Linked DNA regions of Homo sapiens. The protein of the gene in region 1 interacts with the protein of each later gene in a pairwise test. Each region holds a gene or a part of one and is shown in the gene's direction. Other genes may lie near its edges. The genes, in order: RPS6KA6, DNAJC13, CEBPZ, RBPJ and CLEC3B.

Region 1 (6,597 bases):
TGAGCTCAGACCCCAGGTTGAGGCATGGTCATGTACTAGCAGTGGTAGACAGGACTAGGCAAACTTCCAATTCCTTATCCCCCAGAATGCCCAGGAGACAGCATGTATGAGTCCTGTAAGAAGTGGACCAGGACCAGGCCAGTGGACTTGTTAAGTCTCTAGACTCCTGCTGCTGGCTATGATAGGGAGTGATGGGCTGGTTCTTGGAGTCACAGGCAGAACTCTCAAGCAGAGGCAGGGAGAGTACTCTGGAAGTGGGAGTCCTAGGGTACATCATGTGCCTGTGGAGGCTGGGATCTCAGAAGGGCCTACAAAACACTTAGGCAGTTGCAGAATGCTCAGGCAGTTGGTGCATCAATGCATATTGCAGACCTGTGGGGCTGGGCTCTCGGGAGCGCCCACAGAATGCTCAGAATATAGCAAAACACTCAGGTGATTGGGTCCCTATGGCTGATCACAGGCCTGTGGGAGCTGGTCTCTTAAAAGGGCCCACAGGATTCTCAGATTATCACAGAACGCTCTGGTGGTGGGATTCCCATGGCTGATCACATGCTTTGGGGTCTGGGCTCTCAGAATGGCCTGCAGAATGCTTATGTGGTCGAAGTCCCAAGGCCCATCACAGGCCTATGGGGGGCTAGGCTCTCAGAAGGCCTCCAGGTAACAGGTGAAATAGTTGGGAGCAGGGCCGCTGGGCTGCTGGCCTTTCACTGGGGAAGGCAGACCCCTTCAGCTGAAGCAATGAAGGTTGGCAGCTATGGGGTGCTTGGCCCACCTGCACTTCCCTCCTGAAGGAGCAGCAGTGGATTTCACTTTGGTGGGCACACAAAGGTGCCCAGTTTCCCCACTGTCTCCTTGGCCCAGGAGTGGCAAGTGTGATGGTGGTGTTGGGCGCAGCTATTGAGGGAGCTGAAGAGCGGGTCACGAGCCTCTGGGGGCTGGGCTCTAAGAAGAACACCAGGCTGTGGCCAGTATATACATGTAAGGGCAGGGCAGCTGTGCTGTAGACCCAACACTGAAGAAGGGAGGCCTCATTTAGAAGGGAACAGCTGAGACCGGCAGTCTTTGCAGCGTGCATTCTGCTCACTCCTCTGTACTGCAGCTGCAGTATCTGTCTTTGAGGTGTGCACAAGTACCAGCCTCCCTGCTCCCTGCCTAGTGAGGTGGCAGCAGCCGGCGCCAGGCTGCTCAGGGATCAAAAGTCCATGGGATTCCACATGGGCTTGAGCAGTACCTCTGCACAGATTCCAGGCAGCTCCGTGTATTAAACTGGAGGCCTAGGGGATTCAAGGGGGTTTACCTATGGTTAGCATTGAAAGTCTGTGGCAGAATTGTGGAATCCTGGGGGTCTCTCACTCAATCTTCCCTTCCCTGCATCGAAGATCTCCTGGCTCCACACCAGTCTCAGTTCACCTGACGGCATGGCTTTGTTCTCTTCTTTCTGTGATTCCCAATTCCATCACTTCTCTGATGAATTCTAGTGTGGCCTCTTAGAAAATCTACTTGAAGTGTCAATATTTATTGCTATTTTGATTCCTCACCATGAGAGAGGCATCCACTAGCCCACTAGCTGTTTCTAGTAAGCCATAATGAACTAAAAGTCATGTTTACATATTTAAATACATAAAAATTACTCAAAAGTAATTCCCTATTTATTTTTCCCCACTGTGGGACTGTAAGCTTTTTAAAAAATAGATTTCAAAAGAAGTGGCTTTTATATATTATTAGAAATTTTCTATGCCTTTCAAAAGCATAGATTTTAGCAAGATAGATTGTTAGACGACTAAATTTTCAATTATCTGATACAAGCCTAAACAGTACATTTAACGTATATTTTTTATGTGAAAACAATATTTTAGATGAAATATGCACTTTTTAAAAATAATTATTGATTTTGAAAGCCTTGAGCATTTTAGTTATTACTGTGCTGTATTTGCATGGTTATATTATCAATGAGCATTCAAAAACTTCTGATATCCAAAATTGAGCATTCCTTGTGAATTCAGCTTGTGGCATCATTGCTATGTTTCTTGGCCTCATTACATCTTGAACATTATCTCTCAAAATTTTAGAATTTGGTTAACAGTTATCTGAAACTATGAAATTGTTAGTCTTCTATTATGGACTGTGAATATTATGTTCTGCTTTGTTTTACAAAGTATAATAATTTTTAAAGTCTTAATACGTTTTGTGTTATCTGGTTGTCCCTTCTAGAAATTATATAAAAGAGAAGTTCAACCTCCTTTCAAACCTGCTTCTGGAAAACCAGATGATACTTTTTGTTTTGATCCTGAATTTACTGCAAAAACACCTAAAGGTAATGCATGTTTATCTGTAAAATCAGAGATTTTATTTAAGTAGATAGTTTAAAAATAAACTTTCTTGTGAAGTAAAAACTAAAAGAATGGTAAATTTGCAGAGAGTTGATTTGTCCATGGGAAATATGGATCCTATACAAAACATTGCTTGGGCAGCTGTCAAGTAGATGTTTTAAATGGGAAATATTTATCAGGAAGGAAGGAACTTGGTCAAAGGGTGGCAAGTTTATTTCTTTGTTTTATAAGTCCTTTGGCATGCTAATGATTTACAGGATGGGGTAGGAGGTAAGACGTGAGATATATTACTCTGTCTTTTACAGTTTCATACATACACTCAAGAAATATTGAATACCTACTATGTACTAAGCAATGAGGATGCAGTGGTGAAAAGAACAGACAAAAAATACTGACTAAAATGGAGCATGTATACAGATGGGAGGAGACAGATAATATATAATAAATCAAATATATAATATGTTAGTAGCATTTAATGGTTTCCTTTATAGTTAAAGAAATTCTGACACTTTATATCATAGAATTCTGTGTGTAGTTATAATTAAATGTAATTATTTGGACATTAGATTCTCCCGGTTTGCCAGCCAGTGCAAATGCTCATCAGCTCTTCAAAGGATTCAGCTTTGTTGCAACTTCTATTGCAGAAGAATATAAAATCACTCCTATCACAAGTGCAAATGTATTACCAATTGTTCAGGTAAATTCCACTTAATCACATTATTCAGTTTTGGGATAATTATTTCTCTGTTATTGCTGATGTATTTTTAATCGTTTTTTTTAAAGTGATTTTTAACTTCTTTGTTTATCTATTGGTATAAATCATGAATTAAATATGTCCCTGTGTGTTTTGGAAAAGAGCAGACAGTGGTAACTTTTAATTATATTTATGTGGCCTCTTTTGAATAAAATAGAAGGGTGATGTATAAGCTAGTTGCTTTATTATGTTGCCTGTGGGTATCAAGAAAGGATTGGTTCACGCCATTTATAAATGTCGATAAAACTTCTGTAGAATGAATTATTCTAGTTTAAGGCTTAAGATGAATGTATATTTAGGACAAAAGACAGAAAATGTGAAAATATTTCATTCTCCTTAGTATTTTACTTTTTAAAAATAAACAGATAAATGGAAATGCTGCACAATTTGGTGAAGTATATGAATTGAAGGAGGATATTGGTGTTGGCTCCTACTCTGTTTGCAAGCGATGCATACATGCAACTACCAACATGGAATTTGCAGTGAAGGTATTGTCTCTGAGCCTAGCTTTCTTGTTTGTTTTATGCATGTAATTTAAATTATGAGTCAACTGACAAACATTTTCAGTGGAGTAAATGAAGATAGGAAAGATAAGATGATGAGAAAGAACTCTGAGACTTAATATTTTCATTTTTGAATTTCTTTTCAAGCCTTTGTTATGTAGGAACAGTGTATTTCATGAATTTTTGCATTTGAATAATTTTGTTATACATGTATTATGTTAAGATTGAGCAGTTGTGATAATTACAATCACGTCATCATTGGTACAATTTCAGTGAAATAGGATATAATGTTAAAATTTTATTTTTTTCTGTTAAGTTTTTTACTTATGTTTTTAAATGTTAAAATAATATGAGGTAAGTATTGTTCTTGAGTTTTTAAGCATTTCTTCAAAAATATAACCAAATGGAAAATACTCATTTTAGACAAAATAATTTGTTTGCCTCAGATATTTTTCTTTTTTCGTATTTCTTAGATCATTGACAAAAGTAAGCGAGACCCTTCAGAAGAGATTGAAATATTGATGCGCTATGGACAACATCCCAACATTATTACTTTGAAGGATGTAGGTATTTCTAAATCTAGGTATCAGCTAAGCTAATGAAGTTATGAATTGGAACTTTATTTTTCTTATTGAAACTTTTAATGTCTTTAGCATATTTATTTTCATGCCTCAAAAATCTCAGGACTCTTAAATTGCCACTTTAATTCTTTTTTTTCCCATGATTCTATACTTCTAGTCTTATAGAATATCAAAAATAACTATGATGATTGGTAAATGAGAATTTCCTCATTACATGAATATATTCTGGCTGGTTAACTAGTTAACATTGTAGCTAACACCAATTATTATTCTGTAGTGCTATCAATACAGAAGATACAGGAGACTGGGGATCTGCCAAATTCTTGAATATTTTACTTTCTTGATTGTATAGTAATTGGCTATAGCATTATGGATTGTTTCTGGAGTGAAATAGTCTTAGTCTATAGTTTTGTAAAATGAATGTATAACTCATTAATATGTTACTGAATGCTCACTTTTCACATAAGGAGATAATGTTCTTTTCTCTTTATACAAGACAGAAAAGTCAACTATCACCTTGATCAATTTGTGTCAGAAAATGATATGCACTTTGATTTGTAATCTTTAAACTACTGTGGTGTGTGTGTGTGTGTGTTTATCATACATGCCCTGAGTGAAAAGTGTATAAATACTTTTCTTATTTGTTTTCCTTGGTATACTATTGGAATTCAACCAGTATTTAAGATACCAAATCAGATAATGAACTGAGGGAAGGGTATAAAAAATAAATAATGTATTTACTTTCAGAAAGAAGCTTACGTTTGGGGAAGAGAAGTAGCTATAATACAGTAAAAAAATTGAGATAGAGGTCATTTGAGAGGCACAGAGTTCTATTTTTTAATTTCTTTCTTTGATGAACTGCAACCTATAACTTCAAAAGGCAATAAAATTATATGTTTAACATGGTTTCATGGGACTGTGTAGGTGACTGTTTAGCCAATTCAACCTTTAGTACAGCCTGTACTGCATTAAGAGTAAAGGAATAATGTCTTTTTTGTTTCTAATACTAGAGGGAAGTCTAGTAGAAAGGTAAATATAATTAAAATCTAATTTAAGAATTATAGAATTGTAATTATAAATAATAACATTTTAAAACTGCGTTCTTTTGTAGGTCTTTGATGATGGTAGATATGTTTACCTTGTTACGGATTTAATGAAAGGAGGAGAGTTACTTGACCGTATTCTCAAACAAAAATGTTTCTCGGAACGGGAGGCTAGTGATATACTATATGTAATAAGTAAGACAGTTGACTATCTTCATTGTCAAGGAGTAAGTTGTAGTTAACTTTTTTCTTTCTATTCTGGGACCTATATCTTCATGAAAATATAGGAGATGATGCCACCTAAAATAAGTTGCTTTTATTCACATATATTTCTATAGAGAATATCCTAATAGAACTCACAATGTAGTGAAGTTTATGGATTTAGGAAATAATTATTTTCTCTCTGCCAATTGGCCCTGATTTAATAGCATATTCATTTAAAAAGCGGTTTGAATTATATAAATGTACCTAACTTTGACCTTGAAATTATGAAACTTAGACTTAAAAGTCAAACATAAAAGAATTAACCAAAGACATACAGTGACTATTATTCAAGTTACCTAACATATAAAGTTCAGATTACCTAACATGTATCTTGAACCTTGCCAGCTCCTTCCCTAAATACAGTAAGAAATGTGTATTCTAAACATTTCAAGTATTACTATATTAAATTTTGTGGTGAAGGGGCAGGCTTGTTATTTTGCTTCCTGTCCTTTCATAAAGAAGGCAAATGAACTGAGTTACAAAAAAAGGGAACTTTTAATATATATAACTGTATAAAAAAACAAAGTAGGGAGTAATTTAAAAATTTAAGTTTGAATCAGTTGTAATAGTAGATATGTACCAACTTAATAAAGAAATTTAAAATGGCAATTTAGAATTGACATAATGAAAACTCTGCATGAGCCCCTCTTATAATTAGTAAAAATAGTACTCAATTTTGTGTGTGGTTTAATAAAGTGTGTTTTCAGTATTTTTTAATATATAATGCTAAACAGTAGCTTTTTATAATTTAATTATTTGATTGTCTTTACCAACCCTCTCTAAAATAAAGCATGAAGAGAATTTTTGAGAAAAGCATCATAGGCGTCTCTTCTTTATTATTGTATGAACCTTCAGGTTCTTACTTCAATTAACTAAATTAATAAGACACATATTGAGCATTTCTACAGGCCAGGCATTGTAAAAAGTGTTGTGGATTCAAACATGAGTGAGACCTGGTCCTTGTCCTTAAAGAGCTTTAGCATAGTAAACTCTGATTAAAGATAAGGATAACTTACATGAAATAGAGAGTACTAGTAGGGAACTTATCACATGGGGGAATTTCAGCATTTTTTTTTACCAGTCCTACATTTTATTTGTTTCTTCTTTATTGTTTCTATTTTT
Region 2 (6,597 bases), on another chromosome or scaffold:
GGAGTGCTATGGCGTGATCTTGGCTCACTGCAACCTCCATCTCCCGGGTTCAAGCAATTCTCCTGCCGCAGCCTCACAAGTAGCTGGGATTACAGGTGTGCGCCACCACGCCCAGCTAATTTTTTTCTTTTTTTCTTTTTTTGTATTTTTAGTAGAGATGGGGTTTCGCCGTCTTGGCCAGGCTGGTCTCGAACTCCTGACCTCAAGTGATCCGCCTGCCTTGACCTCCCAAAGTGCTGGGATTATAGGCATGAGCCACCACACCTGGCCTATAACTAGTGTTTTTATAGTATTTCCAGTAGTATAGTATGACCAATAGCTGTTTCTTGCCTTACAAAGCTTTCAGTCTAAGGTCAACAAGACTGAAATGTTAAGCAATGGTTATGTTTTTTTCCTGTCCTGAATTCAATGGAAAAGAACACCTTAAAAAAAAAAAGTATGGATGTTCTAATCAGAGGAAGGATCTTAACACTCTGTTTGTGAGATGCTTTATGTACGTTATCTTGCTTTGTCCTGACAGTAGCCGTAGGAAGAAGGTCCTCTTATTCCCAATAACACTTACATGCAGAAAGTAAAGCAACTTCTTTGTGACTTGGGGTTAAGAAAAGATTTCCCAGATGTAATACCAAAAACAATCTAGAAAAGAAGAAAAAAAGGTTGTTAGTTAGACTTCATTAAAATTTAGAACTTTGACACCATTTAGAAAAAGAAAAGACAGATCGCAGGGAGAAAATCTTTGCAAAGCATATAGCTAATAAAGGTTTTCTATCCAGAATATATACAGAACTCTTACAACTCAATACTGAAAAAAACCAAGCGACCCAATAGTAAATGGGCAAAAGATTGAAATAGACACCTCACTGGAAAAATATGAATGTTAATACATGAAAAGATCATGAATCTTTAGGAAATGAAAATGCAAACTACTACATATTCACTAACATGACTAACATCAAAAAGACTGCCAGTGGCAGGTGTTGGCGAGGATATGGAGAAAAGAACTCTCATACATTGCTGGTAAGAAGGTAAAATGATAAAACCAGTTTGAAAAACAGTTTGATAATTTCTTAAAAGATTAAACACATACTTATATGGTCTAGCAGTTCCACTTTTAGGTATCTATCCAAGAGAGATGAAAAGATGCCCACAGAGAGACTTGCACATGAATGTTCGTAATATCATTACTCATAGCCAAAAACAGAAGCAATCCATATCTAGATCAGCCAGTGAATAAACAGACAAAATGTTGCCTGTTCATACAATGGAATACTACTCAGCAATAAAAAAGGACTGACCTAATACATGCAACAACTTGGATGAATCTCAAAAGCCTATGTATGATAAGTAAAATAAGCAAGACACCTAAGACTACATATTCTATAATTCTGTTTTTATGAAGTTTCTTTAAAAAGCAAAACTATAGAGATAGATCAGTGGTTTCCTGGGGCTGGGGAGTGTTCTTTTGCAAATGGGCACAAGGAAATTTTTTGGAGTGATGAAAATATATCAGAACTGATGATGATTATACAGTTGTATAAATTTATTAAAAATTATCAAACTGTACGTTTTAATTGGATGACTTGTGATTTGTCAATTAGAACCGAGTAAAGCTGTTAAAAATAATTTTAAAGGGAGAGAAAGAGAAATTAAAATTAGTGTTTAAGTAACTTGTACAAGGTCATGTAGCAGCACGGTGAAGAGCTAGTATTAGAGCTCTTCCTAAAGCCCCACTGTTTGTGTTTCCCATTGTAACTGTAGTGTGTCCCTGAGCAGATTACCTGCTAAAGGGCCTATGCTTCATGCTAGATCAAAATTCCCCTTAATCATCAATGCTAAAACCTTTTTTTACTTTTAATCTTACTTAGAGATTCCTTATTAGCAAGTTTGCTGGATGGAGTAAGAGCCTCTGGTAATAGAGATGTTTGTGTAAAAATGACACCAACCCATAAAGGTCAGCGATGGGGGTTACTCAGCATGCCTGTTGATGAGGAAGTAGAGAGCCTTCACCTCAGGTTCTTAGCTACGCCTCCAAGTAAGTATTGATTTAAATGTAATTACATTTCCACTCATCTACTTAATTTAAGAATTAGGAATTCGTATCTTCTTTTTGAACCTCTTAATCTCTTTACAGATGGCAACTTTGCAGATGCTGTATTCAGGTTCAATGCTAATATTTCATACAGTGGAGTCCTACATGCAGTAACACAAGATGTAAGCTAAGTTTTATCATAATTGTTCATTGTTACTAACTTTTGGTATGGAAACTTTTTTGAAATACTCTTTCTTCACCTAGGGTCTCTTCTCAGAAAACAAAGAAAAACTGATCAATAATGCCATAACAGCATTACTGTCCCAAGAAGGGGATGTCGTTGCTTCAAATGCGGAACTTGAGAGTCAGTTCCAGGCTGTGAGGAGGCTTGTGGCATCCAAAGCTGGTTTCCTGGCTTTCACTCAGCTTCCAAAGTAAGTTGTCTTCTGAAACTTAACTTCTCTTAGAGAATTTGAACTACTCAAAATGGCAAATAATGAACGATTCACCTCCTTTTCCTTGACTAAACCAGATACCTTTTATAGGGTGATATGGTACTTTATTCATGAGAAATGAAAAAGGAAGGTGAGGGCAGCAGAAGCGGAATATTGGTCCCATACTCACCAGTAATATAACTGACTCTTGAATTTGAATGGGAAATTACATGCCTTTTAGTTTTAGTTAACCCTAAAAAATATTTTCCCTCTCAAAGAAAAAACTATTATGAAGACTGATAAATTTCAGAGGTGGAATTTAAAATACGTCATTGTTCCAGTAGTGCAATGGAAAGTTAATATGATCTATTTCAATAATATAACAATTTAAAATGTTCTGGTATTGCTAGTATATGCTTGTTTTTTGTTCCAAAAGGTTTCGCGAGCGTCTAGGGGTGAAGGTAGTAAAAGCACTCAAAAGAAGCAACAACGGAATAATCCATGCAGCAGTTGATATGCTTTGTGCCCTTATGTGTGTAAGTAGTAGTTTTCTTAAGGAAACTGGTTTTTCTTAAGTTGACTGGTGGTTTTGATTTCCACAGTCCCAGATTTTCATTGTACCAATAAGTTCTTGTTTCTGTTTCATAAATTGTTCTCATAGTTACTCAAACCTTTGTTTAGCATATCCTAAATACCAGGCAATGTGCTGTGTGCCAGAAATTCAAAGATCTTAAGACAGAAGTTCTTTTCTTCCTCACTTTGTTGACAGTCTGGTAAGGTAGGCATATCTGTACAAGGTAAGGTAGTAGGGGCCATAGGATCTTGAAAAGCAGCACTTTATTTTTGTTTGGTGATGAGGGGAAGATGAAAGATTCTCACCCAGTCTTTCTGGAAGATGTTACATTTGATCTGAATCTTGAAGGACAGGCAGGAATTTTCTAGCTCTGGAAAGGCCTTCCTGGGTGGGGAATAGCATATAAAAAGGCATGTTTGGAAAGCAACAAATAATTAAATATGGTTGGGTTATAAGGTATGGATGGGGGGTAATTAGGAGTTGCAGCTAGAGATGTATGCAGACAGTAATAAAAAACCTTCTGTATCAGGAGGGAGGAGCTAGATTTTTATCTTTTTGTAAGGAACACCTGAAGGATTTTTTTTAGCAAGAGAGCAGTAATGTGATCAGGTTTGAGTTTTTAAAAACCCACACTGGTAGTATGTGGAGAATAGAAGTAAAATTAGAGGCAGGTAGACCAAATTGTCACGTAAGAAATGAGTTGCTGAGCTAGGGTAGTCACAGGGCTAAAGAAGCAGCACACCTGAAAGCTGTTTGCGCAGTAAAGATCTAACTTAGTGGCAGCTTGTACAGAGGGAGAAACAATTGTTTAGTACAGTTTTGAAGTTTCTGATTATCTCAGTTTTGTGTGTAGTACCTGGGACTTTTCCTTATATAAAGTGTTTTAGGCAAGCTTAGTCGTACATAAACATAAGTAAATACTTCTGTAAAACCTTGCATTCCCAAAAGCAAATTAATTTTATTTACTGTTCCAAACAAGTAGTGAGATAACTAGAACTTAACAATGATATGGAGAGTTGCTTTATTCGAACAAAAGATGTTCCTATTACCCAGGAAATTCTAATGGTAGAGAGCTTTGTGTCAGGCTCCCCTATCAGGAAATTGCAAAGTTCTTAGGAGCTCTGTGTCAGGAACCAGGGTAAAAGACTGTTGCAACAAAAGATTCTGCTAGTGCCCCTGTCTGCAAGGGTTTTAGGTGCTCTATGTCAGGAGCCAAGGATGGAGACCAATGTATATATTTTTTAATATTTCATGTATTCTCCCTGCTCAGAATTCTTTCCCTGCTTATTCATTAAGAGCTCAAGTCAGCTTTTAAATGAAGCTTACCAAATATACACACCTACTATGTACCCACAACAATTAAAATAAAATTTTAAAAATAAATGGAGCTTTCTTATTCCTGAAGGTGGTAGTGATGTATCCCTCCCTGAAGTGAGATTACCCTTCATAAATATTACACTTGTCTTTCTTAGCAATTTCTTCTTTGAATTATTGCTATTTCTAAACATGATGTATTTTTCTCAATCTGTCAGCTTCCTGAGGATAATATTCATGTTTAATTTTAATTTTTATCCTTAACAGGCCTTGTCAAGCTGTTTAATAAATAATGATTAATTTTTTTCTGTGTTTCAGGTACTATTCTATGAATTTTTCATATATTATTCAGTCTTCCAATGAACTTTAGAAGTTATTACTGTTATATCTATTTTGTAGAGAAGGACTTAAGGCCCAAGTAACTTGTTCAAGGTCATGTAGCTAGTAAATGGCAGAGGAGGCTTCAAGCCCACTTTCTGGCTCCAAAGTTTATACAATTAACCATAGTAACATACAGTATTTGCTAAATGAGCAGAAACAAAAAGGAAGGAAATTCTGACACGTTTTGCAACATGGATGAACCTTGAGAACATGATGCTAGTGAAAGAAGTCAGTCACAAAAGGATAAATATTGTATGATTTTAATTATATGAGGTCAAATTCACAGAAAGTAGAATGGTGGTTGCCAGGGGCTTGGGAGGAAGGCAGAATGGGGAATTATTGTTTAATGATTACAGAGTTTCAGTTTGGGAAAATGAAAAAAGTTCTAGCGATGGGTGGTGGTGATGGTTGCCCAACAATGTGAATGCTTAATGCCACTGAACAGTGTAATTTAAAATGGTTAAGATGGTAACTTTTGTTATATGTAGTTTACCACAATAAAAAAAAGTAAGAAACAATGCTATGAAACAAACATTGAGCCCTCATTACATATTAGGTGTTGGCTTTGTATCTTACATGAATTATCTCATCTAAGCATCATAGTAATGTTACATAAATACTATTACTCCTACTTTACAGCTGAGGAAAATGAAACTTAGAGACTTATGTAAAGTAACTTACCTTGCGTAACGTCTCCCAGTTATTGTCAGTAGTAAAATTAGGATTGGAGCTCTACTCCTAACCATCACGCTGGAATGTTTTATACACTCAAAAGAAAATCACCCTGAGACAAGTATTTGTTGTTAATTTTAGTACATTTAAATGCTAAGTTTTATTTCAAATTTTAGTTATAAAATTCTGGGTGGGCAAATGTTTGCCTTTTAATAAGATCTGTGACTTTTGAGAGAGTACCTTTTGTATATGTTGAGTTAATTGTTGGGCAAATTATCTGTGAAGTCTGATCAAAATCATGGTAAATCGTCACTTCTGCCTGCTTATCACGAGTTTCCTTTTTGCCTTACACTTTAAAGGCAATGGTTTTTAATTCTTTCAATGTGTAATGAATACTGTTTATAAATGACTTTTGCGTGATGCTAGCACATGGGACTGCTTATGAATTATCACTGTTTTTTTTTTTTCATCAATAGCCCATGCATGATGACTATGACTTAAGACAAGAACAGTTGAACAAAGCTTCTCTTCTCTCGTCAAAGAAGTTTCTGGAAAACTTACTGGAGAAATTTAATTCCCATGTGGTAAGTTATAATTAAATTTGTCTTCATGGTAGATACCATACCATTATTGAAAGATATTCTAGAAGTGCCACGTGGATGATTTTTTTTTTTTTTATTGTAGCCCCCAGCTTTGGTCAGTATTGGTCACAGTTCAGCTTGGTCACTGATAATAAAATATTTTGTCTTAGGACTATATCCATTCACCTGGGAAGGATAGATGTCAAAGCCTTTAGATTTTCACAGGGATACTCCAAATTTTTGTTTTTTCTTTCTTTAAAAATATCATTAGGAAATAAACTGCTCTAAAAAAAATTAAGCCAAATCTTTGTTCCTCAGTCCCTGATAACAATTTTGGAGATGGGCATTCTATAGCATCTTGAAGGAACATAAGCAGATTGCCAGAGTTTTGCAAATATTGTCAAATATTATTTTTTGCAAATATTAACCTTTGTTATACACATTTGAGAAGTCTTGGTTATACTCTTGAAATTTGAATTTTAATTGTTCCTTTTGAGGTATGATGGATAATGGATTCACTATATGAGCAAAAGCAAGTACTAAAGAGTCATCCAACTTTGAACCTCATGTTGAGAAATTAAAGTCAATGTTGATGTCTGACATATAGAATAA
Region 3 (6,597 bases), on another chromosome or scaffold:
TGGTGCCATCATCATCCTTTTCTGGTCATTGACTTCCATCTTACCTCTTAGGGCAGGGTCTCTTGTTCTAAAATAAGCAGCAAAGTTATCCCTAACTAAGATGAGGTTAGTAGCTATTTCTAATATGTGACCATTGGTTGTGGAGATGGTTTTATACATAAATATTTGACCTTGGTTTTGTTTTGCAGGAAGATGTTGGATCCAGGGTTGATGACGTGTTCCAAGCAAGCTATGTTTCTTAACCTTGTCTACAAATCTCTGAAAGCTGACATTGTGTTGCGCCGGGTGAAGGCTTTTGTGAAGAGGTTACTTCAAGTTACTTGTCAACAGATGCCACCATTTATATGTGGAGCTTTATATCTTGTGTCTGAGATCCTTAAAGCAAAACCAGGTTTAAGAAGCCAACTAGATGATCATCCGGTATATTTTACAACTGCTTTTTAAATTGAGTGGGTGCTGAAATATATTGGTTTTTGTTTTGTTTTTCTTTGCTTCAAATGACAGTAACCTAGTTCTCTGGAGCATATGAGTGTGAGTTCTGGAATAGGACAAACCTAGATTTTAGTACCAGCTGTACAGTTTACTAGGTGGGCATGTTGCTCAACTCTTCTACTTGCAATAAACTGTACTATACTAGAAGCTACCATTATATGAGATTTGGAAGACTATAAAACTTAGTAGACCTCTTAAGTCTTCTTCCTTAACAATGAAATGGAAATAATAGTACCTACCTCATAGGGTTATTTACAAGTCAGAAATTTACTTGAGGGCTAATTGTTTTCAAGTATTAGAGTCCTTAAGGCTCAGGGGTTCTTAGCTCAAAACTTAACTGTGTTATGTTTAGAAATAAGGATGTAATCTCCTCTCTTGTTTAAATACCATTGATAGCCATCATTTTACTTTATTAGAACTTTCACGTTTCACCAGAGTTGCAATAAGTAAAACTCTGCATCACATAATGGAGCACAGACTTTATTGCAACTTCCAGTTGATTTATGTAGATTTATGAAACTATACTTTTGTTAGGAGTCTGATGATGAAGAAAATTTTATTGATGCAAATGATGATGAAGACATGGAAAAATTCACTGATGCAGACAAAGAAACAGAGATAGTGAAAAAACTTGAGACAGAGGAAACAGTTCCTGAAACTGATGTAGAAACCAAAAAACCAGAGGTTGCTTCCTGGGTGCACTTTGATAATTTGAAAGGTGAGTTTTTTTCATCTTTATTCTCTAGGGAGTTTGTTTCTCTTTGATTTTCATAGAAAATAGCATTCTACCATTTTATTTACTTATTTATTTATTTAGACAGAGTCTCACTCTGTTGCCCAGGCTGGAATGCAGAGGCGTGATCTCGGCTCACTGCAACCTCCGCCTCCCAGGTTCAAGTGATTCTCCTGCCTCAACCTCCCAAGTAGCTGGGATTACAGGCATGTGCCACCACACCTGGCTAATTTTTGTATTTTTAGTAGAGGTGGAGTTTCACCATGTTCGCCAGGCTGGTCTCAAACTCCTGACCTCAGGTGATCTGCCTGCCTCAGCCTCCCAAAGTGCTGGGATTACAGGCGTGAGCCACTGTACCTGGCCCACAGTTTCTTAAAGTAATGTTTTAGGGATAGAAAACTTTCTGTTCAAGATAGAAACGTTAAGTGGTTTTCTATACACACACCAAACTAAATTAAAAGTCTATTAATAGAATGTTAGAGTCAAAAAAAAATCTTAGAAATGCAGCCCCTTCATTTGAGGCTGTGAAGAAAACACCAGCCTTGAGGTTCGAGAAATGTGGTGCCAGACCCATTTCTTCAGCTTGCTTTGGGACTCACAGTCAAATTAATTCATCTACAAATTTCAGTTTGTGAAGTACAAAAGAGAAGTCTGATAGCTGCCAGAAAAGTTTGAGAAGAATCCATCAGTTCCCCTGAAGACTAAACTGAGAATAATCCTTTAGAAGGATGAAGAGCTTGTGTGTTGGAAGGTAGTCAGTTCCTAGTTTGTTCTGAAAAATCTTTGTTTTAAATTTTTTTAATCCTGAGTTTCTAAAAACATGAAGATAATGTCAGACCTGTTCCAAGTGAGAATTATTTCTGGGCATACTTTCATGACAAATATTTGAAGCACTCTAAAGCTCCAAAAGACTTTAGACCTAGTTCATCTTCAGATTATTTCCATCTTAACGTTTCCACCTCTTTGGCCCCAAAATGGGCACCTTTTGTTGCCATTTAGGAAAGGGAGAAGTTTGGGGTTTTTTGGTTTGGTTTTTGTTTTTTTTGAGACAGGGTCTCACTATGTCACCCAGGCCAGGCTGGAGTACAGTGGGCCATTATGGCTCACTGCAGCCTCAAACTCCTGAACTCAAGCGATCCTCCCACCTCAGCCTCCCAGGTAGCCGGGACTACAGGCTCGTGCCACCAGGTATGGCTAGTTGTGTTTTTTGTAGAGACGAAATCCCACTCTGTGCACCGGCTGGTCTCGAGCTCTTGGTCTCAAGCAGCCTTTCCACCTTGGCCTCCCAAAGTGCTGGGATTATAGGCATGAGCCATTGTGCCCAGCCAAAGGAGAAGTTTTGAAGGGAGCTTTTACTTACTTATTTTTGAGTCAGGGTCTTGCTCTGTCAGGAAGGCTGGATCACAATGGCACGATCTTGGTTCACTGCAACTCCCATCTCCTGGGCTCAAGTGATCCTCCCACCTCAGTCTCCCGAATAGCTGGGACTACAGGCACACACCACCACACCTGGCTAGTTTTTTTGTTGTATTTTTTGTAAGAGATGGGGTTTCACCATTTTGCCCAGGCTGGTCTCGAACTCCTGAACTCAAATGATCCACTCGCCTCAGCCTCCCTAAGTGCTGTGATTACAGGTGTGAGCCACTGCACCTGGCCTTGAAGAAAGCTTTTGGTGTTTGGGATAAACATGTTCTCTGCTTTATTCAAGAGCAGATGCTAGCTTAAGTACCAAGACAAATTCTTGAGGGAGCTCAGAGTTTTTAATCTAGGTTGCTTGGCTAAGTAAGAATGTTGGAGATATCTGTTGAGAATATTAATGGTGGTGCTTTTAATGACCTCTTGGGCTAGGAAGAAAGCATTTGAGAAATCGTATTTTTTTTGTTATTCCTAGGTGGGAAACAGTTAAATAAATACGATCCATTCAGTAGAAACCCTCTGTTCTGTGGAGCTGAAAATACAAGTCTTTGGGAACTCAAAAAGGTAAAATAATTTCAAATTGTCTTTTATTCATTTATGCTATATATATATATATATATTTTTTTTTTTTTTGAGACAGAGTCTTCCTCTGTCACCAGGCTGGAGTGCAGTGGCATGATTGTGGCTCACTGTAACGTCCGCCTTCCGGGTTCAAGCCATTCTCCTGGCTCAGCCTCCCAAGTAGCTGGGATTACAGGCGCCCACCACCACGCCCAGCTAATTTTTGTATTTTTAGTAGAGACGGGGTTTCACCATGTTGGCCAGGATGGTCTTGATCTCCTGACCTTGTGATCCGCCTGCCTCAGCCTCCCAAAGTGCTGGGATTACAGGCATGAGCCACTGCGCCCGGCCTATGCTGTATATTTTTGCCCTTGAGGATGTAATGCCTTGAAGTTTTTGTTTTTTTATGATAATTATAAGCATTAATAAACATTAAAAGTCCACATTTGGGGGAAGATACTATGTGAAGTGTTCATTTTGTAGAAAATCTTAAGTGTGCACGTAAAATAAGGATGTCATGCATGGGTTATGACTGTTGCTTTTTGTAGGTAGATTATTGCATATAGAGTTGAGAAAATGGATAAATTTTGCTTTATTTATTAGATACCTCTGAAAAGTTTTATGATAAAATTTTTTGCAAGTAAAGTTACTTTTCTGAATTTGTAAGAGGAATTCATATTTTTAATAACCTTTCTGTGACTTTTTGTGTAAAGCCAGTAAGTATCTTATGCAGCTATTCTCAAAGTGCGGCCAGACCACTAAGAGTTCCTGATACCTTTTTAGTGAGTCGGCCAGGTCACAGCTCTTTCCATAGTAATACCAGTACATTATTTGTTTTCATCACTGTGTTGACGGTGGCACTGATACTATAAAAGAAATGATAGGTAAAACTGCTGCAGCTTATCCTGAATAAAGACAGCACCAAGCTGCATCAGAAGCCATTATATTCATCACTGCCACATATGTGCAGTTAAAAAAAAAAAAGCCAGTATGACTTAAGAATGATGACACAGGGAGAATTACTGATTTTAGTGTCTTGACCTTAAAGTAACATGTCTTTTTAGTATTTCGTGTGCATACATAGCAAGTATGCGTAACATACCTGTGCTGCCTACCTAAAGCATGAAGGTTGTCACGTGTCTCAAGGACAAGTGCTTACCAGTTGTTGCAAGCTCATCTAGCTGCTCTTTCATGAAAGACTGACAAACTGGTTATTCAGGCTTAGGTATTTGGGAGATATTTTCTTGAAAATGAATGAAACAAAAAAGCTGGCAGTATTTGTTGTCAGCAATAAAATTCAAAAATAAAGCTTTCGAGCAAAGATTAAAGTTTTAAAAATCTTGTAACCACCACCTTGAGCTTGACAGTTTCTCAATTTGTAAAACTTTTCTGATGAAATCAGTGGTTCTAACAATGTGATTGTTGTGGTAAAGTATAACGAAATGTGCCAGTGTTTGGAAGGACTGCATATGGTATTTTTCCAATGACCAATGCACAATGTTACAAATTCTTTTTTTTGAAACGAGAAGGTTCTGTCACCCATACTGGAATGCAGTGGCGCGATCTCGGCTCACTGCAACCTCTACCTCCTGAGTAGCTGGGATTACAGGAGCATGCCACCATGCCCAGCTAATTTTTTTATTTTTAGCACAGACAGTGTTTTGCCATGTTGTCCAGGCTGGTCTCGAACTCCTGACTTCAGGTGATCCACCTACCTCAGCCTCCCAAAGTGCTGGGATTACAGGCATGAGCCACTGTGCCACCTGAATGTTACAAATTCTTGAGTGAATAAATGATTGATTCAAAGTAGACCAAATAATTTTAAGTAGCAAGTACCAAAAGCCAATTGAATATGGGTTTCAGATTCCATATTACAACTAATCTTTGGTTTTGGTATAGTACTAAAGAAGAAAATTCACAGCTATGTGAAAGACTATTTTCTACACATGAGGCCAGATTGTATGTTTCAACGTGGAATACAGAAGCAGATGAAATAATCCACTCTCTTCTGTTAAGCCAGACATTAAAGAGATTTGCAAAACTGTAAAGTAATACTACTCGCTATATATTTCGTCCTGAAGCATAATTATTTTTCTTTTTTTCTTTTTTCTTTTTTTTTTTGAGGCAGAGTCTTGCTCTGTCGCCCAGGCTGGAGTGCGGTGGTGCGATCTCAGCTCACTGCAAGCTCCGCCTCCCGGGTTCACACCATCCTCCTGCCTCAGCCTCCCGAGTAGCTGAGACTACAGGCGCACACCGCCACGCCTGGCTAATTTTTTGTATTTTTAGTAGAGACGGGGTTTCACCGTGTTAGCCAGGATGGTCTCGATCTCCTGACCTCGTGATCCGCCCGCCTCGGCCTCCCAAAATGCTGGGATTACAGGCATGAGCCACCTCGCCTGGCTGCATAATTATTTTTCATAAATATGCTACTTACTAGTATGTAGTAGCTTTATGGTTTTTGTTTTTGTTTTTTGTTTTTTTTTTTTGAGACAGAGTCTTGCTCTGTTGCCTAGGCCAGAGTGCAGTGGCGCGATCTCGGCTCACTCCAAGTTCCGCCTCCCAGGTTCACACCATTCTCCTGCCTCAGCCTCCCGAGTAGCTGGGACTACAGGCACCCGCCACCACGCCCGGCTAATTTTTTGTATTTTTAGTAGAGATGGGGTTTCACCATGTTAGCCAGGATGGTCTCGATCTCCTGACCTCGTGATCCGCCCACCTCAGCCTCCCAAGGTGCTGGGATTACAGGCATGAGCCACCGCGCCTGGCCGCTTTATTGTTATTTTTAATGGACCTATAAGTATTTACAATTTTTCTGTTTATTTTTATAACATAGGTGTCTGTAGATATAAACCTGTTGAATAGAAACTGATGGAATTTTTGGTTTTTAAGTGTAGGAAATGGTCCTGAGACCAATATGTTTTGAGAATCACTTTTTTAATGTATTGGCTTAAATTTCAAATTTTTGCATTTTCATTTTTGTTGTTGTTGAAATAGGGTCTCACTCTGTCACCCAGGCTGGAGTGCAGTGGTGCCATGTCAGCTCACTGCAGCCTCGACCTCCTGGGCCCAGGCAGTCCTCCCACTTTAGCCTCCTGAGTAGCTGGGAGTACAGGCACGCGCGCACCATCACACCCTGACTATTTTTGTACTTTTTGTAGACATGGGGTTTCGCCATATTGCCCAGGCCAGTCTCAACTTCTGGGCTCAAGCAATCTGCCTGCCTGAGCCTCCCAAAGTGCTGGAATTACAGGTGTGAGCCACCACACCCAGCCCGATTTTCTTAAATAAGCTATAAATGTACTAAGAGTCGACCTTAGAAATATTGATATTATTCACATTTTTCTTTTTAGTTATCTGTGCATTTTCATCCCTCCGTGGCCCTTTTTGCAAAGACC
Region 4 (6,597 bases), on another chromosome or scaffold:
TTTTTTAAATTAAAAATTGCCTTTTCAATAGCCAATTAATTCTTTACTAATATTTTTGTGGCCCTCTTTATTGTCTCTCTTTTTTTAATCGTAAATCGACAGTATGTGGTCTAATGAAGCAGTTCTTAACCAGAGTTGGTTCCTTAATGCTCCCAGGGACATTCTGGGGAAATGGGAGATTTTCTCCTTCTGTTGTTACAGTGACTGGAGGGGGTGATGTTGGCTTTGGGTGTCTTGAGCCTGTGGTGCTGAATTGAATGTCCTGCAGTGTCCAAGGTAGTTCCCATTCCACAAAGAATTGATCTACCCACAATGTCAACAAGTACCCCTTTGAAAAACGCTACCAACTAAATGGGCTTTGGCAGGCCTTCCTGAGAATCTAAACACAATTTTTAATGTGGTTGCTCTGGCAGAGACTGCTGTCTCATCAGCCTATTTTTAGACTACCAAACAAGTATGTTTGAATTATAAATTTAACCTCCACACCCATTTTTCTTTTTTTAACTTTTTATTATGGAGACTTTTCTTTTTTTTTTTGAGATGGACTCTTACTCTGTCGCCCAGGCTGGAGTGCAGTGGCAGGATCTCAGCTCACTGCAACCTCCACCTCCCGGGTTCAACCAATCCTCCCTGCCTCAGCCTCCTGAGTAGCTGGGATTACAGGTGCCCACCATCACGCCCGGCTGATTTTGTATTTTTTAGTAGAGATGAGGTTTCGCCATTTGGCCAGGCTGGTCTTGAACTCCTGACCTCAGGTGATCCACCCACCTCGACCTCCCAAAGTGTTGGGATTGCAGGCGTGAGCCACCATGCCTGGCTGAGACTTTCAAATTTATATAAAAGGGAGAAATTAGCCACCCAGCCTCAACAGGTTTTATCAATTCTGTTTCATTATCTCCATCACCACCAACACCTCTTCGTCTTCTAATTGCTGGAGTATTTTAATGTAAATCTCATCCTATCCTTTCAACCAAAATTTCTGCAATAGTGACTAATACATGCCCTTTTTTTTGAAACATCATTATACGTAACAGTTGACAGCAGCTCTTAAGTGTCATCTAATATCCTATTTCATGTACAGATTTATCAGATTGACCCAGAATGTCTTTTTATAGTTTTTTTGCTTTGTTTTGTTTTACAGTGGTTTGTTCAAACATGGATTCAGATAAGGTCCACACATTTTAGTCTGTAATAGTTTCTTCTCACCCTCTCTCACCTTTGTTTTCCTTCTATGTCATTTATTTGTTGAAGAAACTGGATCATTTTTCCTGTTGTGGAATTCCATATTCTGGGTTTGGCTGATTATATGTTTCTCTGTCTCTCTTACTTTCCATGAACTGGTGGTTAGACATAAAGACTTTCAGAACTGATTGGTAAGATATACATTTATTTCCATTGGATTGGAAGTCATAATATCTGATTATCCCCTTTTTTTTTTTTGGTCATGTTGAGATTGATTATAGTAGTTCAGCTGTTGTAAGTCTATTCCACCCATAAAGTTCCTCAGCAAACTTTAACCTAATGGTTTTAATAGTCATTGATGATGTTTAAATCCATTTCATTAAATGCTGCAAAATGGTGATATTCTAATTTTTTAAATTCTAACTTCTGCATTCGTTAGCTGGAGTTTTTTCTACAAAGAGGGACTTTGCCATATCAGCTATTTGCTTCAATTGTAATATGTAATGAAAAGGCAGGATTAGGTGCTTGTTTACTCATTTGCAGAATAATAACATTCCTTGAAAGTGACCAGTGGGGTTTTAGGGTTTTTGTTTTGTTTGCTTTCTTTTCATTTTGTTTTATTATGAGATCATGGTTTTTGTTGTGGTTGTTGTTATTGTTGTTGTTTTGTATTGGTTATATTTTAGTCCACTCAGTCCACTAATATCACTTAGTTTTTATTACGGAAAAATTTCAAACACTCTCAAGTAGACAGAGTTGCACCATACAGTGAAACCTCTTATGTTCATTCTCTAACGTCAACAGTGATCTTAACATTCAACCAATCTTATCTTCATCTATACCTGTACTCCAGCCCCACTTTCTTCTGCCCTTATTTTAGTTTGATGCATATCCAATCAGTGTTCAAATTTAAAATGGTCTAAAATATTTTAAAAATCAGATTGCTTGAATCAAAATTCAGATCTACCACTTAGTACAGTTTATATTGTGATATGTCCTTGAGTATAATCTATGGACACCCCCTCAACTCTTGCAATTTATTTAAGTAAGTTGAAACATTTAGTCACTAGAGATTTCCACGTACTAGATTTTGCTGATTTCATTTATTTGGTATAGTTTAATGTATTTTCTGTAAATTGGTAGAGTCAAAAAGAAATAGAGCGTGGGCCTAGTTGGAAAGACAGATTTCATTCAGTACTATTGCAATAGGGGAAAATAGAACCAAGTTCCATTTCAGAATACAACAAAGACACTTGGGGATGAAGCAGAGTGAGAGGGTCAATGGATGGAAACTTTCTAAAAGGAGACATCAAAGGTAGAAGGTTTCTTTCTGACCTGACTTAGGATTCCTGCTAAAGGCAGGCCAAGGTGATCATAGATCCAGAGTGGGAGATAGTTTAGGAGGATTCTTACTATATATAACTGAGCTAAACAGACTGATGACGGGGCTCAAGGACAAATACTAGTTGATTGCTCAGAGCAGCCTGCTTAAAAGTATGGTCAAGGAGAGAATCTTTAGTGTAGAATGGTGATCAGATTTAAGTTTGTTGTCCTTTGGTTCTTGTTTTCTTTCTGAAAAGCAAGACCTGCTTCAAAGGTGGTGGTGTGCTCTCTTGCACTAGGAGGTATATTATGTCTTGTATTCAGGCTATTTGCATTTCAGATTACACAGTTTTATGTAACTGCTTTAACTTTGTGTTTGTACTGAATATTAGTTTCTTGATGGCAGAGAACATATTTCACTTTCAGAATGTTTTTCTGCTTACATGGATTTATTTTCAAGAAATTTCATACAATACTTTATTTAGAAGAAAGCAGAATTTTCTGAAATCACAGTATGCAGAGGCATTTACCATCAACTCTGACAAACATCCTTCTGGTCCCTTTTCTATGCATGTATTCTGTGGAATTGGATGCAAACACATATTAAAAATATATACATTTGCCTAATGGAACCACAGCATACAGAGTATTTTATAGTCTGCTTTTCCATTCAGTGATATTCCAGGAAAATATTTTCTTATCAGTGTGTTTAGATACACATCCTTTCAATAGGTCATCATTTAAATTTCTACTGTCTAACATTATTTTAAAAGTAAGTTTTTCTCTAATAATCAGCACCACATTAAACATACTGTGTAGCTTTCACTTTAAAATTATTTTTATGGACATTTGATATCATTAGCTTGACATTATTAATAACAGTTACCTTGACTTTTTGATATCATCTGTACTGTCTTGGAAAGTGAAAATATTTGTCAAACTGTTAAATGATAAGAAAGAATAATTATACACTGCCAAGCAGAATTTCCTTCTTTTGCTCCCTCCCCACCTTCTGCTCCAATCACATAAATAAGAGCTGTTTTTTCTTTGCAGTATGCATTGCCTCAGGAACAAAGGTGGCTCTGTTTAATCGACTACGATCCCAGACAGTTAGTACCAGATACTTGCATGTAGAAGGAGGTAATTTTCATGCCAGTTCACAGCAGTGGGGAGCCTTTTTTATTCATCTCTGTGAGTATAAAAGTGTGCATTTAATGTTTTTAGTGTGAAATTGTTAAAATCTTTTGATGAGATACATGGATATATTAAGTTTTGTCATTTGCCTAATCATAAAATAAATTTAAAAAGATGACAATTTGATTTATTTTTCCACCTACTGCAGTGGATGATGATGAATCAGAAGGAGAAGAATTCACAGTCCGAGATGGCTACATCCATTATGGACAAACAGTCAAACTTGTGTGCTCAGTTACTGGCATGGCACTCCCAAGATTGGTATGGCTCTACTTTTGCTTTAGTGATAATGTGAAGTAAAAATTAATTTCTTAAACAGGAAAATCACAACATTCAAATGGAAAAACACACCTCAGTTTTATGCTTTTTAATTTTAAAAGGTATGTTAGTAATCAGTGCTGTTTATAATTGACAGTTATGCTCTACCTTATTTCAGAAATGCTTTAAGGTAATAGCCAGTTTTTACAAGTACATTCTTAATGATTTTTTCTTAAATGATTTCCAATATATTTTGGTGGCAATTTCCTTTTTGGCTGTTTATCTGAAGATGTTCAGTAGAGGGCACTATAAATTACATTTCTTTTCTTTACTAATGCGGATAAACCGTATTCATTTTTTTGTGGTACCTGCCATATCCCAATGTAGGACCAAGTTTGCAAACAGAAGACATTCTTATTTCTTTTGAAATATAAGCGTAATTTTTGTTAGCTTACTCTCTCACAAGAAGATAGATTTATTAAAACTGAAATAAAATTGGTATTTCTAACTGGGAGCAGGGCATAGGATTTAGGGCTTTTGTTCAATAGAAGACATTGAAACTCGGCCACGCATGGTGACTCACACCTGCAATCCCAGCACTTCAACAGGTGAAGGCAGGAGAAGGAGAAGTGACTAGCCCTGGCATCACTTGAGCTCAGGAGTTCGAGACTAGTCCTGGCAACATGGTCAGACCGTCTTTACCACTGACCCCGCCCCCCCAAAAAAAAAATTAGCCAGGCATGGTGGTGCACACCTGTAGTCTCAAGCTTAAGTGGGAGGATCACTTGAGCTCGGGAGGTCAAGGCTGCAATGAGCGGTGATCGTACCACTGGACTTTAGCCTGGGCAACAGAATGAGATCCTATCTCAACAACCACAGAAAAGGAGATCTTGAAATTGTAAAAACTACTTTTGTTAGTAAAATGAAAACAAAAGTCCTCTATAGTGCCACCACCCTCCCAATTTTCCCTCTCCTTTTCTCAAACAATATAATTTACTTATATTCAAGATGAAGGGGATTTATGAGTAAGTTTGATTCAAGGTCAGACTGAAGAGGTTGGGTGAGTAGAAGAACATTTAGTATTAATGTTCCTAAACATGCCTCCTATTTATCTTTTTGGTGCAATATTCCACTGGCTTATATTTTCTGGGGTCATTTCAGCAGAGGCTGGTTTGATCTACAGTTTTCTAAGCCAGTGATTCATTTCTTTGTTACTGTTTTTTTTTTTTACCCTCTGTCATGATTGTACAAGGTGATTTTATTTCCCATGTCAATGCAATAAGCTAGAAGACATGAAGTATAGTAATAGTAATCTGTAAAGCTTTGCAGCTGAGACAAATTATAATAAAAAGGGTAACGTTAGGGAATGAAGGGCATGAAAAACAGAGCAGGAGACAGAAGCAAGCAAAAAATCTGAATCAGCATTTATTCATTTTTTTTCTCTTCTCATTCATTTCCTCTGTTCCAAGGATGATGTTCATTTGCTTTGGTGTTAAATGCTTGTACTGCAGAAGCACAACTTAGGAGGATGATTCTGATCACCAATAGTTTATAATACAAACCACTTAGAAGACAGACCCAAATTTAAAACAATGTTTTCATTTACAGTTGTTTGTAAAGTACCAGTAGCCTGCCTTGCTTGAAAGTCATTAATTGAGGTTTTTACACTCAAAACTGTATGGCTTTATATAAAAATGTTGCAATGAAAAATTAACTTATTAGAAAAAGTTGCAGTACCATTATTAAGACGCTGATACATAAATCTTTCCAGGGGTTTCATGACAGGAATTCTGACATGCAAAGTCGAGTGCCTCTCGTCATTGAGTTTACATTTTGATAGAGTGATAAGCCAAATACCCATGTAAAGGATTTATGTAGTGATGAAAAAACAAAACAAGATAATAAAGGGATAGAGAATTGGAGGAGCGCTTAGAGAGGTCAGGGAAGTCTTTTTGAAGTCGCAGTATTTGAAGAGAGCCCAGAATGAAGTCAAAGAACCGGTAATTGAGTGAGGAGCATTTCAGGCAAACAGAACAAGTACAGAACTGAAGGCAGGGGATGTATGATGACTAGTAAAGAAACCAGTGGAGCTGGAGCGGAGGGAGGAGAGGTCAAGTGGCAGGAACTGAATCTGTAAGGTTAGCACTAAGCAAGACCTTGTAGGATCCCTCTCTGTATCTAGGGTAAGGACTTCATATTATCTCTGCATGTTAGAAGGCCACTGGAGGATTTTAAACGGGGCACGATGGCCTATTTTTGTTTAGAAGTATATGTGTGGCTGCTGTGTGGAGAAGAGAGCATAGCAATGCGGCCGTGGAAGCAGAGAGACAGGTGCTTGGATTGTTGTCATAATTGAGGCAAGAGTTGATGCTATCTTAGACCCAGGATCATAGTATTAAGGTGGTGAGGGGTGACTGATTTGTTGGAAAGTGGACCTGACAGAATTTGCTGGCAGATTGGATGGTTGGGTGTGAGAGAAAGCAAGGCATCAAGGGTGACTCTTAAGGTTTTTGGATTGAGTGAATGCTAGTGCCATTTATTGACCTAGATGAGTTGGGGAAGGATCAAGTTTAGGAGGAAATCCAAAAATCTGTTTTCGATATGCTAAGCTTGAGGTGCCTGTTAGACATCGTAAGTGGA
Region 5 (6,241 bases), on another chromosome or scaffold:
GAGGCTCAGAGAGTGGGCCAGCACAAAGGCCTCCTGACTCTGCCCAGGGCCGTAGAGACACCTACTCCCACAGCTTCCTCAGGTGGAGCTAATGAGAGTAGCTTCCTGTACCTTGGACAGTCCCTGGAGGAAACTTTGCACATATGGGCACCTTGGTGCAAATTACAAAAGGTACCTCCTCTAAACTGACAAATTATAGAAAGGCATCTCTTTTTCTGGTCTGACCCACTCTAGCCAGGGCAAGGCTTAGGAGACAAATGGGCCTTCATGTGTCCCTCAGCAGAATGCCCTTCTTCAGTGCCCCCTTGCACAGCCTCACATGGCACCCTATGCTGGTACATCACGTGACTGGGTACAGTGCTGCTATAACTGGTGGAGGCAGTCTCTGTGTGAGGCACACATGACCTCAGGCTGGTTTGCCAGCCCCAAACTCTCCCTTTTTTTGCCTTGCTCATCAGGGTGTTTTTGCTCCAGTTTGGTAAGTTACATCGCTAATTTCTATATACACAACCATGTGTCTTGCCTGTGATTCTTCTGCAAAGGCACCTTATGGGTGGACGAAGGCTCTGATCTCACTCTTTGTGAGTGTGGAATGTATGCAGACACAGCCAAATGGACCATTAAAGTGTTTCCCCACCCACTTCCCCAAGCTGAGTGCAGCCTTTCCTGAAGCCCTGGTGTTTCAGAAAGACCAGGGTCCGCCCCAGGAGCTCTAAACTTACACACACATAGAAATATGCTTCCCGGCACCCTCAACTTACACACACATAGAAATATGCTTCCCCGCCTTCCCCTGCTGACTCTTACATGACTGGCTGCCAGCAGGACAGCTCCTGTTAGGAATCCGTTTGTGTGCCATGGGGAAGGTGGGGAAGAGCATGGCTTCAGAGCCATGTGCACCTGGGTTCCAGGCCAGCCCTGCCAGCTGGGGCTCTGCCATCCTCGGCCAGTTGGTTTAGGGCAGCCTGGGTTTCCTCATGGTGAAATGCTGGTGGTACAGAATGACACGTTACCTGTGTCATAGGGTTGATTATGAGCATCACATGGGGTGACATGTAGAACGGCTTAGCCCAGAGCCTGGCCTCCTCTGTAAGAGTGGAAAACCTGGGTTCCTTCTGCCCTCATCTTATTAGTAGCTGTGATGGGCACACACTCAGCCAAGCACTGAGGTAGGCAGCTCTGCGTTTCAGTTCTCTTAGTCTTCTCCAGAGTCCTAGGAGGTGGGGCTGTCATCATCCACTTCATACATGAGGGAACCAAATCCAGAGAGGCTGAGCAGCTCGCCCAGGCCACCCGTGTCTGTGGCACCTCCAAGCCCTGCATATGCGTGCCCCAGGCTGGAGTGCCTGCTGGTCTGTGTCGCATTCCTCCAGCCTGGGGAAGTGAACCTGGGGGCTTCTTGAGGGCTCCTGCTGTGCTTCCTGTGCTGTTCTTCCCTGGAGCTGAAAAGGTAGCTGGGTGGTGGGGGATCACTGAAGCCTGTGCCTACACCCTCACCCCTGCCTCTGCTAATCCCAGCCCCATCTGATCCCCAGCAACAATCCCAAACAAATGCAGCACAGGAGCAAGTGAAGGATGGGCCCCCTGGCAGAAGTCACAAGTGGTTAATTAGACTACCACCAGCAAGGATAGAGAGAGAGAAAGTTTCCCAAGATATCAAGGTTGAGGGGAGTCTTTTCCTCTCATCCCTCTGCAGCTAAGGTAGGATCCTTCCTGCTCAGTCCCTGCCCCACCCTGACATATTTCCTCCTGCTTCAGATGTTGTGAACACAAAGATGTTTGAGGAGCTCAAGAGCCGTCTGGACACCCTGGCCCAGGAGGTGGCCCTGCTGAAGGAGCAGCAGGCCCTGCAGACGGGTGAGTGCAGGCAGTAGCCTCTCTGGGCAGGAGCGTCTGAGAGAAGGGCCCAGGCCAGCAGCCAGCAATGCTCTTCTCGCCTCCGTTCAGCATCAGGGTCCTGGCTCCATTAGTCCAGGCCTATGGGTGAAGGCACCAGGTTCAGGGAGCCCCACCTCTTTCTCTTGGGGAGATCCCCTGACACGTGTCTGCAAAACTCACCTGGATGTGTACGGCCAAATCTCTGGCCACAGCTGGGTGGTGTGGAAGTGGGGATGTCCCAAGAGGACAAAAAATTCTCCAACAAGAATCCACTACTGCCCACCAGAAGTGACCCTGGAGCGCTCGATGGGGCAGAGGTAGTGGCCCACCCTAGCAAAGCTCCCAGGAGCCCCTCACTCAGCTGGCCTCTGCAGCCCCAGAGAGCTCCACACTCCTGTGTGTCAGCAGCTTTGCTGACCCTGTCTCTCTTAATCGTAACTCTGCTGAGGTGGGATTTGTCAGCTCCATTTTAAAGATGAGCTGTCAGCTCCATGAAATGTCAGCTCCATTTTAAAGATGTGTCAGCAGCAACTGAGGCATAGACAGGTCCTGAACCTGGCTCATACTCACCTCGTTGGTTAGTTGACTCGTGGAAGAGCAAGAGTTGAATGGAGGCAGGCTGCCCAGTGCCAAGCTGGGCCTTGGTGTTCCTGGCTCTGCACTAGCCAGCTGAGGGAGGGTGCACAGAATCACCAAGAACAGGGCCCAGGCGCATGGTAAGGTCATGCCCTCTGGCCAGCATACCTGGCAGCCTATTGTTTCTCACTCCCCATGTTCCTGTCATATAGTCTGCATTTTCCACATACCTCCGATTTACCTACCTTTATATGACCTCACCTTCCATTCTATGGAGAACACAGACTCACAATACTGATGACTATTTACATGTGAGCCCACTACATTCTGGCACTGTTCTTGATGCTTGATGCAGACTCACAATACTGATGACTATTTACATGTGAGCCCACTACATTCTGGCACTGTTCTTGATGCTTGATGCACGTTAACTCATTCACAGCACACCCGTGCAGTGGTCCTGTTACTACATCCTCACCCTTATTTTCCACCGAGAAGGACCTTGTGACAGCCGAAAGGAGCAGAGCCTCACTTAGCTCTGCTATGCTGCCCCTCGAGTTATCAGCTGGGAAATCACCTTGACTCCTCAGCAAATCTATAAACCACCCTGTGTCCACAGCCACTCTCTTACCTGTTGCTTTTGTGACCAAGGCCCATCCATCTGCAAGGCCTTCCCTTCCCCGCCTGCCTCCTCAGAAACCCCCAACAGCCTTCTCACCGGATGGTTTTACACACTCCCTCCCATTCATATGCTTTCCTTCAGCATTCACACTGCCATCCTTCTGCACTCCCACCACAGGGCCTTTGCATGTGCTGTTTGGGCAACCTGAATTGCTCCCCCAAGATCCACCTAATAAATGCCTCCAGCATTATCTTCTCAGGAGTCACTAATCCCTCATCTCAATCAGCTCCTCAGTTATAAGCTCTCCCAGAACAGTGTCCTTTCTTTTATCACACTGACTGCAGTCTGTAATGATACACTCATTTCCTGATTTGTGTCTGCTGCCTCCACTAGACTATAGTAAGCCCTGAGAACACAAGGGCCATGTTTGCTTTTCATTGCCCTTGTCTCTTCCACTACCCTGCCCAGCATAGTGCCTGCCACATAGCAACACTCAGTCAATCTCTGTTGAAGGAAGGACAAACATGTAACTTTGGACAGCTTGCTTGGCATGGCAGGTAGGAAGAGAGTGCTCGAGAAAGGGAGCATCTCCAGAGGTGTTTTTGACTTCATGTAATAGGAAACCTATCAGTGGCTTAAACAAAAAGTAAGTCTGCAAGTAGGTAGTTATAAGTTTTTGTTCAGAAGTTTCACCTCATGGTCTTCAGATGGCTGCCCCAACTCCAGGCATCATGAGTGCATTCAAGGCAAGAAGGAGGAAGAGTAGCCCAACCACATCTGTCTCATTTATAGGGAACGTAGTCTTCCACTTCCATCTCATTGACAAGAAATCTATCATATGGCCACCTGCAGCTTTAAGAACATCTGAGAATGCAAGAATGTAGCTTTTCCAGCCTCTATAGTGGAGGTGGACAAGAGAGAAGGGATTTGGAGGCAACAGTGCCTGGCACAGCGGGTATGTTTAGAATGAGCCCAGTGCCACTCTGAGCCTCAGTTTCCTCATCTGTAAGGTAGGCAGGGTAAACTCTAAGGTCTCTCTCATGTCTAAGCTCTGTGCTGTGCAAAGTCAATGTAACCCAGGCATCAACTGCCACCTGGGGTGAGGTAATGAGGTGGGGACCTCCCTGAAAAAAGTTCATGACATATGGAGGCCCAAAGCATGACATATGAAAGCCCCCATGTCTGCTGATTTCTAGGAAGCTGCTGGGCTTCTTGGGGCCTTCTCCTGTTCATTGTCCTCACAACCCAAAGATCACCTTTTCAATAAACCCACCCAAAGCATTGCAGAGCTCTGTTGACCTAACCAGAGTTGAAGGAATCAGGGGGCAACCTTTCCCTCCTCCAACCAGCATACACATGGGAGGTTCCCACCTGGTACATCTCTGCCAGGCACAAGGAGGCAGAGGTGATGCAGCCAGGGCCCTGCTCCCTGGGAACCTCAATATATTCATGGAATCACTTGAGCCCTTGAAAGCTGTGTAGGAATCAGAGAAGATAAAGAGGGTTGATTCCAAGCAGATGGCAGGGCAGGAGCAGAGGTGTGGAGGACTAGCATAAATCGACAGGATCATGAATAGACCAGAGCAACAAAATGTTGGCAGCAATGATAGTATCACGAGAAGTAGCATTGACTGAGGACTACCTATGTGTTGGAGGGAGGTTCAGGTGAGGGTCCTAGGAAGCAACTCTGAGATGGAGTTTAACCCACAGGAGACTTATCAGGAGATACCCTCAGGATCAACCCCTGTGCTAGGGAAGGGATGGAAGGAAGCAGGAGTGGGCAGAAGGAGAAGTCGAGCTGTACTGTGGTGCCACGAAAGCCTCAGCTGACTTCAGGAGCCCTGATGACGGGATGACCCTTCGGCACTGTCCTGAGTCGGGGCAAGAGGGCTTATGGGTCAGTCTTGGGTGTAGGCTGCTCTAGGGAGGGGCACGGCCTTGGAAGAGATGGCTGTCTTCTGCTGAGGCAGTCCCTGCAGGAGGCTGAAAGCTGAGGACTTTCTTCCTGCAGCATTCCTGGCAGCCAGGGCAGTGAATCCTTCATCCCCAACAAAAGTCTAGGTAGCACGTCAGTGTTACCAGCAGGAAGGAAAGGCAATGAAGGCCGCTTGGCTAAGCTGTAGGATAGCACGAGGTAGGACAGCTGACTTGGGGCAGAGTCTGTGGGTAGACACCTCTGTAATGCTTCAGGCCCCATGTTTAAAGTCGGTTGTGGTGTCAGATGCCCATGGGGACACTGGGATGCTGTCCATTGATATTTGTTGAGTGAAATGGAAGTAACTGAGTGGGAATGGATAGAGGGGAGTGCAGACATCCCCCAAAGTGGTGGGGTCACCAGCAAGAGGACAAATGCAGACATACACCTGTCTGTCAAGATATTCCTTTCCACAGAAATCTTTAGTAAAAGGTGAACGATTTATACGATCTCAGGAGAAATCAGAGTATGTCTAGATATTTCAGCTAGAAATCAAGCTGAAAATGCAAACTGCAAAACAAAAATAGATTTTATCCTCCTAACTTGACCAAATATGTGCCTTCATCACAACCTTTGGGGCCAGGCTCAAACTGAGAATTTGTGGACACCTCAGAGTCCCTTGCCTGATCGCCGGCCTCTGACCACAGCCTGTGCCCAGCACTTCCTGTCTTCTCTCTTGCAGTCTCAGCTCTATCCACTCAGCCCCACCCTACCAGCCCTCAGGAGAACTGACCCTGCAAAAGGCACTTGGCAGGCCCTGGAAGCTTGCTTGGGCTGTTTGGGTAGGGATTTGGGGCCCTGGGTACATGAAGTGTGGCCTAGGCTGTAGGTGGGCAGGTGCCCTGGCCCTGCAAGCTGCTTGATCTTAGGGAGGGGCATGGAGGAAGGAGAACCAGAGCAGGTGGCTGTGGCTGGGCTCCCTGGGAAGCTGACTCTGAGACAGAGCTAATTTGTTAGGGTGAGCCCTAGGAGCCACACATGTGGGGGCGGGGGGAAGAGGAAGTGGGCAGAGGGAGAGCTGAGCTGCAGTGCAGGCACCAGGCCAGCCTCTGTGACCCAAGGAGATGGGGTGGGTAAAGGCCAGAAATGACTGAGGTGGAGGCCTGGGAAGGGGTGTCAGCTGGGGCTGGGTGCTTCTGTAGCACAAGGGCTGCCTTTTCTCCCAGCCGCGGGAGCACCAAGACCTCCTG

The links.
Region 2: the proteins of RPS6KA6 (region 1) and DNAJC13 interact in a two-hybrid assay, tested with the Homo sapiens proteins (one large-scale study listed by BioGRID and IntAct).
Region 3: the proteins of RPS6KA6 (region 1) and CEBPZ interact in a two-hybrid assay, tested with the Homo sapiens proteins (one large-scale study listed by BioGRID and IntAct).
Region 4: the proteins of RPS6KA6 (region 1) and RBPJ interact in a two-hybrid assay, tested with the Homo sapiens proteins (one large-scale study listed by BioGRID and IntAct).
Region 5: the proteins of RPS6KA6 (region 1) and CLEC3B interact in a two-hybrid assay, tested with the Homo sapiens proteins (one large-scale study listed by BioGRID and IntAct).

Annotation. Positions count from the first base shown.
Region 1 is NC_000023.11:84,103,340-84,109,936, reverse strand, and holds part of RPS6KA6 (ribosomal protein S6 kinase alpha-6), read left to right. Parts: intron 1-2,211; coding exon 2,212-2,314; intron 2,315-2,896; coding exon 2,897-3,027; intron 3,028-3,449; coding exon 3,450-3,572; intron 3,573-4,060; coding exon 4,061-4,150; intron 4,151-5,279; coding exon 5,280-5,438; intron 5,439-6,597. UniProt on the Homo sapiens protein: Constitutively active serine/threonine-protein kinase that exhibits growth-factor-independent kinase activity and that may participate in p53/TP53-dependent cell growth arrest signaling and play an inhibitory role during embryogenesis.
Region 2 is NC_000003.12:132,454,370-132,460,966, forward strand, and holds part of DNAJC13 (dnaJ homolog subfamily C member 13), read left to right. Parts: intron 1-1,865; coding exon 1,866-2,032; intron 2,033-2,131; coding exon 2,132-2,211; intron 2,212-2,293; coding exon 2,294-2,463; intron 2,464-2,899; coding exon 2,900-2,999; intron 3,000-5,880; coding exon 5,881-5,988; intron 5,989-6,597.
Region 3 is NC_000002.12:37,216,993-37,223,589, reverse strand, and holds part of CEBPZ (CCAAT/enhancer-binding protein zeta), read left to right. Parts: intron 1-188; coding exon 189-420; intron 421-1,026; coding exon 1,027-1,210; intron 1,211-3,116; coding exon 3,117-3,205; intron 3,206-6,552; coding exon 6,553-6,597. UniProt on the Homo sapiens protein: Stimulates transcription from the HSP70 promoter.
Region 4 is NC_000004.12:26,420,784-26,427,380, forward strand, and holds part of RBPJ (recombining binding protein suppressor of hairless), read left to right. Parts: intron 1-3,558; coding exon 3,559-3,696; intron 3,697-3,847; coding exon 3,848-3,960; intron 3,961-6,597. UniProt on the Homo sapiens protein: Transcriptional regulator that plays a central role in Notch signaling, a signaling pathway involved in cell-cell communication that regulates a broad spectrum of cell-fate determinations.
Region 5 is NC_000003.12:45,029,069-45,035,309, forward strand, and holds part of CLEC3B (tetranectin), read left to right. Parts: intron 1-1,074; exon of another isoform or gene 1,075-1,169; intron 1,170-1,758; coding exon 1,759-1,857; intron 1,858-6,241. UniProt on the Homo sapiens protein: Tetranectin binds to plasminogen and to isolated kringle 4. May be involved in the packaging of molecules destined for exocytosis. Plays a role in retinal function.